Homo sapiens: one gene and its partner. Changing the gene in region 2 together with the main gene of any one other region gives a genetic interaction. Each region holds a gene or a part of one and is shown on either strand. Other genes may lie near its edges.

Region 1 (3,814 bases), on a different chromosome or scaffold from region 2:
AGACCGGACCTTGGACCAGCAGTGCACTGTGAGTCGTCCAGGACTGGCCGTGATTGCAGGAGCCCTGGCCGTGGAATTGATGGTATCTGTTTTGCAGCATCCAGAAGGGTGAGTTTGCTAGTAGGAGATGAGTATTTAAACAAAGCTTTTGTAGGCAGTTGTTCATCAGTGTCTCCCATGGCCTTTTCTCAGTCTGACTTTACAGAGAATTTCACTATTTCACCCTCAAAAAAACAAGACTAGAAAAAGCAGGTCTGGTTCTTTGGGCTGAGATAACTTGGCATGTTTCCTTTGTGGCCACATTTCTGCATCTTTCCGGACAAAGTCACTATGGTTTATTTTATTTTTCCAACGCTTATATAGGGCTTACTTTGTGCTAGGCACTGTTCTAAGCACCTTAGAAATTTTGCCTCCTTCAATCTTTTTTTTTTTTTTTAACGAGACGGAATTTCGCTCTTGTTGCCCAGGCTGGAGTGTAATGGCACGATTTTGGCTCACTGCAACCTCTGCCTTCTAGGTTCAAGTGATTCTCCTGCCTCAGCCTCCCAAGTAGCTGGAATTACAGGCATACGCCACCATGCCCGGCTGATTTTTGTATTTTTAGTAGAGATGGGGTTTTGCCATGTTGGTCAGGCTAGTCTTGAACCTCTGACCTCAGTGATCAGAAGTGATTCACCCACCTTATCCTCCCAAAGTGTTGGGATTACAGGCGTGAGCCATTGCACCCGGCCTCCTTTAATCTTCATAGCAAACATATTAGGAAAGAACTATTATTATTAGTCGCAGTTTTGATGGGGAAATCAAGGCATAGTGAGGATAAGTAAGTGGCCAAATTTACATAGTAAATGGAAAAGCCAGGGTTTAGCTCAACCAGTGTGGCTCCAGACTATGTTTAATGACTTTGTTATGCTGTTTGCAATACAGGCAGCAGAAAATCGAATTTTTGAAAGATTTATTTTTCCAGTTCTCAGAAAGTCAATATGCAAATTAACATGAATATTCTATTTCTTGTGTGACTCAAAGCTTTCCTCAGCAGTTGAAAATTGTGGTTGTATATGTAACTAGTATGGGTACTCTGAGATAAATGAAAAGCGGGGCTTTTTTGTCTTCCTCTTTGTCATCCACCTTAGCTATCTGTCATTTAAGTTTATTGCCACTCTCTGACAGGAAGTATTTGGGATAAAATCTTTGAGAGCTGACTTTATGCTTCCTTGACACTGAGCCTCTGTCTGCCACATTTGCCCTGGTCATAGTTTAAACACCAGGTCCTGTGTCACATCTTTTTGGTGCCACAAGTATCACTCCATTGTTCAGAGAGTAGTGTATTAGTTCTGCCCAATTCATTCTTCACTTTTATTTCTTCCATTTCATTAGCATTTATATCAGCTCAAGAAGTTAAGGTTAGAAAATTTTCCACTTCAAATTTTCAGTACAGAAATGTGCTGTGATGTTTGACAAGACTATTTCATAGTAAGTGAGTTAATGTTTATTGGCCTCTGATATGCCGAACATTGCACTCGGCAGTTGATGTAGTAGATTCCTCATTTATTAATCAGAGCTCCCTCATTCCTACTTTATAGATGATGGATCTGAAGCACAGAAAAGTTAAGCAACTTGCCTATGGTCACAAGCTCAGGTCTTTCTGACTCCAAACCATGCATGTTTAAATTACTCTTCTTGCCCTTTGTCCCAGGGAAATTAGTTTTTTGCTAACTTACACTGCCCAGCAAGGGGCATTTTAGTTATCCTTATGAATCTTATGTAGATTTCTGCTAGATCATCCTCCCATGTGTTAAACTTGGATTAAATGAGCAGCTCTGATTGTTTCCTGTCCTCAGGGGCTATGCCATTGCCAGCAGCAGTGACGATCGGATGAATGAGCCTCCAACCTCTCTTGGGCTTGTGCCTCACCAGGTTAGTGATGTGGAAGTGAAATCACAATTCTTTTGGTACAGGGGGAAAGCATGTGGGGTCTCTTTGCCATTCCATCTGCCCAGCCCACTTCATATCCACCCTACTTACCCTGCAGCTGGGATTTCAATGGGAGAGCTTTCTGACCACCTGGAAGGTATTCCATTCTGCGGGATAGTGATGGGAGGAAATCACGAACGAGAAGCATTGCCCAGAGTCTTTGATGCGTTTTGTAAACTGACTAGAGGCCTCATAATGCAATAGGAACAGAAAAAACAGGCTTTGGAATCAGTCATACAATGGTTTAAATCCCAGCCCTGCCGTTATAAAGATGGCCTTCTTTGGCCAAGTCACTAAACTTCTCTGAGGCTTAGTTTTCTTATCTGTAACATAGAGAAGGTAATGCTGACATCACCTGGTAGTTGTATGGATTATGGATGGTTGCTAGAAAGGGCTCAGCAACAGTGTATATCATAGGCCCTCAACAAACAATGCCTGCTGTTTCTTTACTGTTGCTTGTTATTATTATTGACTCTGAACCCAAATAGAAAACCTTTATAGGCAGGCATGAGAAAAACATTAGAAGCATGCAGGGTCACCAAAAAGTGGGGTGTCTTTTCAGAAAAAGAATCCAAAGCATCATGAGGAAGTTCCATCCCTTAGGGAGTAAAAAGAAAAAGGCAGTGGGATGATCTTTTAGAATTCATGTTGCCTCTTCAGTCATTTTCATTACTATATTTTTGGGAGATTGAAGAGGTTTTCCAGTCTTATTTGGAAATCATTTTTTTTTAGATTCCATGTATGTATCCTCTCCTGTAATGTGACTGCTGTTCCCATCAGTGAAATCGTGATGGTGCCCACCAGTCCTATCTGGTGATTTGCAAGGACAGACTCAGACGAGTGCAGAGAGCAGAGTGACTCAGCTCATGCTTGTCTCTCTCTTCCTCCTCGCCACCCACCTTCTGCCAGCTAGGGCGGCACTGTCATATTCAGTTTAGGATGAGAATCAGAAGAGGGGAAACGACTTCTTCATGGTCACAGAGACTTAGTGGATGAGCCACAATCCATACCTAAACTTGGCAGTCTGACAAATGTTCTTTCAAAGGTCTTGTGAGTTGAAAGATCCGTGGCCTGCATGTTGGGAGATTTTGCTTCCTGTTGGTACCCCAGCCCCCTTGCACAAAACCACCCATAATAGAACTTGTGGGCCGGGCGCGGTGACTCATGCCTGTAATTCCAGCACTTTGGGAGGCCGAGGCGGGTGGATCACGAGGAGAGGAGTTTGAGACCAGCCTGACCAACATGGTGAAACCCCGTCTCTACTAAAAATACAAAAATTAGCTGAGCGTGATAGTGTGCACCTGTAATCCCAGCTACTCAGGAGGCTGAGGCAGGAGAATCGCTTGAACCCGGGAGGTGGAGGGTTGCAGTGAGCTAAGATCGCGCCATTGCACTGTGGCCTGGGCGACAGAGTGAGACTCCATCTCAAAAAAAAAAAAAAAAAAAATAGAACTTGTAGAGTTCACTTAGCCTCCCAGAGTCTCAGTTTCCAAATCAAGAAAAGCAGGTGCTTTACTTTGTGTCCAGGATTACATCTGACACGGCCTTGAAAACCACAAAACACTATGAAAATGTGCCCCCCTCTGTCCCCCACACACAAGGTGGCATTTTTTTTTGACATGCATGTGTTAATCTTTTCTACAGAGACATTTCACGTAGGACCCAAAAGACGCGGTAATAACCATCTATCATAAGGAAGCTGATCTCCAGAGCCTACCTCTGCTATTTATGCTGTCGTATCTCATTTGAATCTTTCCCAAGTCTCCCGCCTTCTTCTGACCTTGAGATGTGCCCTCATCTCCTTTACAGACTTTATATTGAGAAGGGCCTTAATTAAATTTTC
Region 2 (3,814 bases):
GGGGACAGGTGTCCATCCTCACTTTCCTGATAGAAGACCGCCCCCCTAGATAAGCGGGCGGCCTCCGTGCCCATATAAGGCCGGCTTGGGCTCCACGCCGGCCTCCCGCCCGCAGCCCGCCTGCCTGGCAGGGCCTTTGCATTCCTCCCGCCAGCTGTCTCCCCGCTAGGGGCGGGGGTGTAGTTTAGCCCGGCCCTCCGGGCTGGGTCGCCAGGGAGTAGAAAGGGAGCACTCCGGTCCCGGGGTCCTGGGAATCCAGCACTCTTGGCAGGCGGGCTGGTTGACTGGGCCGGGGACTACCTTACAAGCCAGCCGCTGCCCTTTCAGGGTGTTGGGGGCCTGGGCAGTTAGGGAGCGCATTTGCCTGCTGCTAGGGATGCCTGCGCTGTTACTCCTCCCCCTTCCTTTTCCCGGTAAGGAGAGGGGGTGGGGCTTCCTCCCTTGCTGTCTGGGGAGCTCCACCTTCCGGGTGGCACTTAACTGACTGGCCAATGGGAGGAAGCGGCACTGTTTGCCTTAGCAACGCCTCTGCCAATCAAGGGTCTTGGGCCCAGCTGCTTTGCAAACGTCTCGTGCTGACCCACCCCGCAGCCTTTGAGCCTCTGGTTGACTCATTTCGGGTCTGGGCTTGGTGGCTTGGTTCTCAGTTTCCTTCTTCCCCTTCTAAGAACGAAGTCTTCCTTAGGGGAGAGTCAGTGCTGTAGGCTACCTCCTCTCTTAGTGGCATATCATCTGTAATAATTTTTAAACTTTTATAACAGTAGGGCTCATTTATTCCCAGGAAATTTTGTTGGATGAGTACATTCTTTTGGTAGTTTACATCTTGGGTGTTTGACATATAGTGTGTCATTGCCAGATTCTCAAGATCTCTCTCAAACTCTTAAGTTCCCTGAGAAACTCAGTTCCTATCTCAGAAGCCTGACAAATTAGAGCTGGAAGAACTCTTTGAAAGAAAACGTAGTAGCCCAGCCCCCTCATGCTTATAGAAGAGGAAAACCGAGGTTCAGAAAAGGGGACTGGTTATTTCAGGGTCACTTAGATGGTCATTACCAGAGCTAGGAACAGACCTTGGTGTCCTGACTCCCCAGCCAATGGGATTACCACAGTCCGCTGGAGCAGAGAACTCAGGGGATTATAATAATGACAATGATAATAATTATCATAAGAGCAGCAAATATTTATTTTGGTTTTTTTATGTGCCAGGTAGTGTTTTCTAAGTGATTTACATATGCTAACCTACTTAATCCTTACAGCAACCTAGGGGGTAGGTATTATCCTCCTTTTACCGATAGAAAACTGTAGCTCAGTAGATCAATAACTTACCTAAGAGTCAGGCATCAGGTAAATGGTGGCGTTGGGATTTGAACCCAAGCTCACTGGTTTCAGTCTGGGTTCTCAGTCCACACAAAGCTTCTGCAAAGGCAGGATCTGGTAGGGGCTCATTGCTTCATCTTTACTCTGGGTATAGGACACACTGAAGCCGGCGTTCACAGTCACCAACCTGCCGGGTACAACCTCCACCATCCAAACAGCACCTAGCACCTCTACCACCATGCAAGTCAGCAGCGGCCCCTCCTTTCCCATCACCAACTACCTGGCACCAGTGTCTGCTAGTGTCAGCCCCAGTGCTGTCAGCAGTGCCAATGGGACTGTGCTGAAGAGTACAGGCAGCGGCCCTGTCTCCTCTGGGGGCCTTATGCAGCTGCCTACCAGCTTCACCCTCATGCCTGGTGAGTCACGAGGGGCAGGGAGAGATTCGTCCTTCCTGGGGCAAATCAAGCATGCTAAGAGTGTGTTTAGGGCTGGCACCAAGAGAACCTCTTTCCCTGCTCAGAAGGAAGGTGAATAGGGGCCAGAGCCTGAGCGAAGCCTCTTATATCCCGTTGGCAGGCATACCTCTGCCCACTGAGACCCCTGCTGTCCTTGTCAGTAAGTTTCAACCATATATTCTGGCCCTGTCTAGCTACCCCAGCCCCGTGCCCTCATTGCCACAGGGCAGTAGATGTTTCACCACTTCCTGCCTTGACTGGAAGGCAGATCATGTCTTTGATGGGTTATTGCCAGCTCTTGGGTCAACTGAAGAAAAGAGAGACAAGGCCCAGGGCAGGAGGAGGAGGGATGGGCAAGAGTAGAGCGTGGAAGCCCCCAGAGTGGATACTTGGGCCTGAAGGGCCTCTTTGGCTTCCAGGAAAGATAGTGATGGGAGTTGGAGACCAGTGTGCCAGACCCTGGGACTGGGGTGTCCATGGGTACTTGGTGGAGGTGGCAATTGGGTGGGACAGAGCACAAATAAGACTCTGTGTCTTGCAGGTGGGGCAGTGGCCCAGCAGGTCCCAGTGCAGGCCATTCAAGTGCACCAGGCCCCACAGCAAGCGTCTCCCTCCCGTGACAGCAGCACAGACCTCACGCAGACCTCCTCCAGCGGGACAGGTATAGCTCGCAGCCCTGTCACCCTCCCTCCCTGCCTTCCCCCACGAGGCCTAGCAGTAGGTGCCCAACAGTAACCCTCCTGTAACTAAAGTCAGGGGATTTCTTAAAGTGGAGATTGAGGCTTTGGGCCTAATAATTATGGGGAAGTCAGGTGAGGATGACTGGGTTTTGAATCCCGCCCTGCAGTGGGCTGCGGATTCCAGAAGAAAATTGGGGACCATTGACCTACCTCCTCATTCAGATGAGGAGCCTGAGGCCTAGAAATAAGAAGTTACTTGCTCAAAGACACATTTGCTTAATTATCAGGAAGGACTTAGAGAGCAATTTTCTCTTTGTGCGAGGGTCTTACAGGTTTTGAGTAGCCACAGTTACCCTCAGGTATCTCTAGACATTTCAGAAATGATGAGATACTCTCAAAGTAAGGTTAATTTTAAGTTCTTATTATTTATAACCTTTTTACTCAAAGTGTGGCCTATGGACTGGGAACACCAGCATTACCTGGGAGCTTGTTGGAAATACAGAATCTTGAGTCTCACCCCAAACCTAGTGAATCGGAGTCTGTTTTTTTTTTTTTTTTTGAGACGGAGTCTCGCTCTCTGTCGCCCAGGCTGGAGTGCAGTGGCACCATCTCGGCTCACTGCAAGCTCTGCCTCCCGGGTTCACGCTATTCTCCTGCCTCAGCCTCCCGAGTAGCTGGGACTACAGGTGCCCGCCACCACACCTGGCTAATTTTTTTGTATTTTTAGTAGAGACGGGGTTTCACCTTGTTAGCCAGGATGGTCTCGATCTCCTGACCTCGTGATCCGCCCACCTCGGCCTCTCAAAGTGCTGGGATTACAGGCCTGAGCCACCGCACCCGGCCCAGAGTCTGTGTTTTAACAAGATTCCCATATAATGCACGTTAACATTTGAGAAGTGCTTGTTTGAAAGATGAATTTGTTAGCTGTGCATTAAGAAGGAGAGAGAGGCCGGGTGCGGTGGCTCACGTCTGTAATCCCAGCGCTTTGGGAGGCCGAGGGGGGCAGATCACGAGGTCAGGAGATTGAGATCATCCTGGCTAACACGGTGAAACTCCATCTCTACTAAAAATTCAAAAAATTAGCCGGGCTTGATGGCAGGCATCTGTAGTCCCAGCTACTCGGGAGGCTGAGGCAGGAGAATGGCATGAGCCCAGGAGGCGGAGCTTGCAGTGAGCCAAGATCGCGCCACTGCACCCCAGCCTGGGTGACAGAGTGAGACTCCATCTCAAAAAAAAAAAAAAAAAGGAGGGAGAATGAGAACAAATAAAAAATAAGATGTTAGAGCTCCTAAAAGGGGAGTATCTGAGTTTTCTGAGAGTAGGTCAGTCATAATCTTTGTTTTTCCCAAGATTTAGGACTTAGAG

The links.
Region 1: of SRF (region 2) and ATG7, changing one enhances a phenotype caused by changing the other (phenotypic enhancement), as found in Homo sapiens cells (one large-scale study listed by BioGRID).

The regions. Positions count from the first base shown.
Region 1 is NC_000003.12:11,362,821-11,366,634, forward strand, and holds part of ATG7 (ubiquitin-like modifier-activating enzyme ATG7), read left to right. Parts: coding exon 1-108; intron 109-1,838; coding exon 1,839-1,914; intron 1,915-3,814. UniProt on the Homo sapiens protein: E1-like activating enzyme involved in the 2 ubiquitin-like systems required for cytoplasm to vacuole transport (Cvt) and autophagy.
Region 2 is NC_000006.12:43,174,238-43,178,051, forward strand, and holds part of SRF (serum response factor), read left to right. Parts: intron 1-1,468; coding exon 1,469-1,730; intron 1,731-2,310; coding exon 2,311-2,430; intron 2,431-3,814. UniProt on the Homo sapiens protein: SRF is a transcription factor that binds to the serum response element (SRE), a short sequence of dyad symmetry located 300 bp to the 5' of the site of transcription initiation of some genes (such as FOS).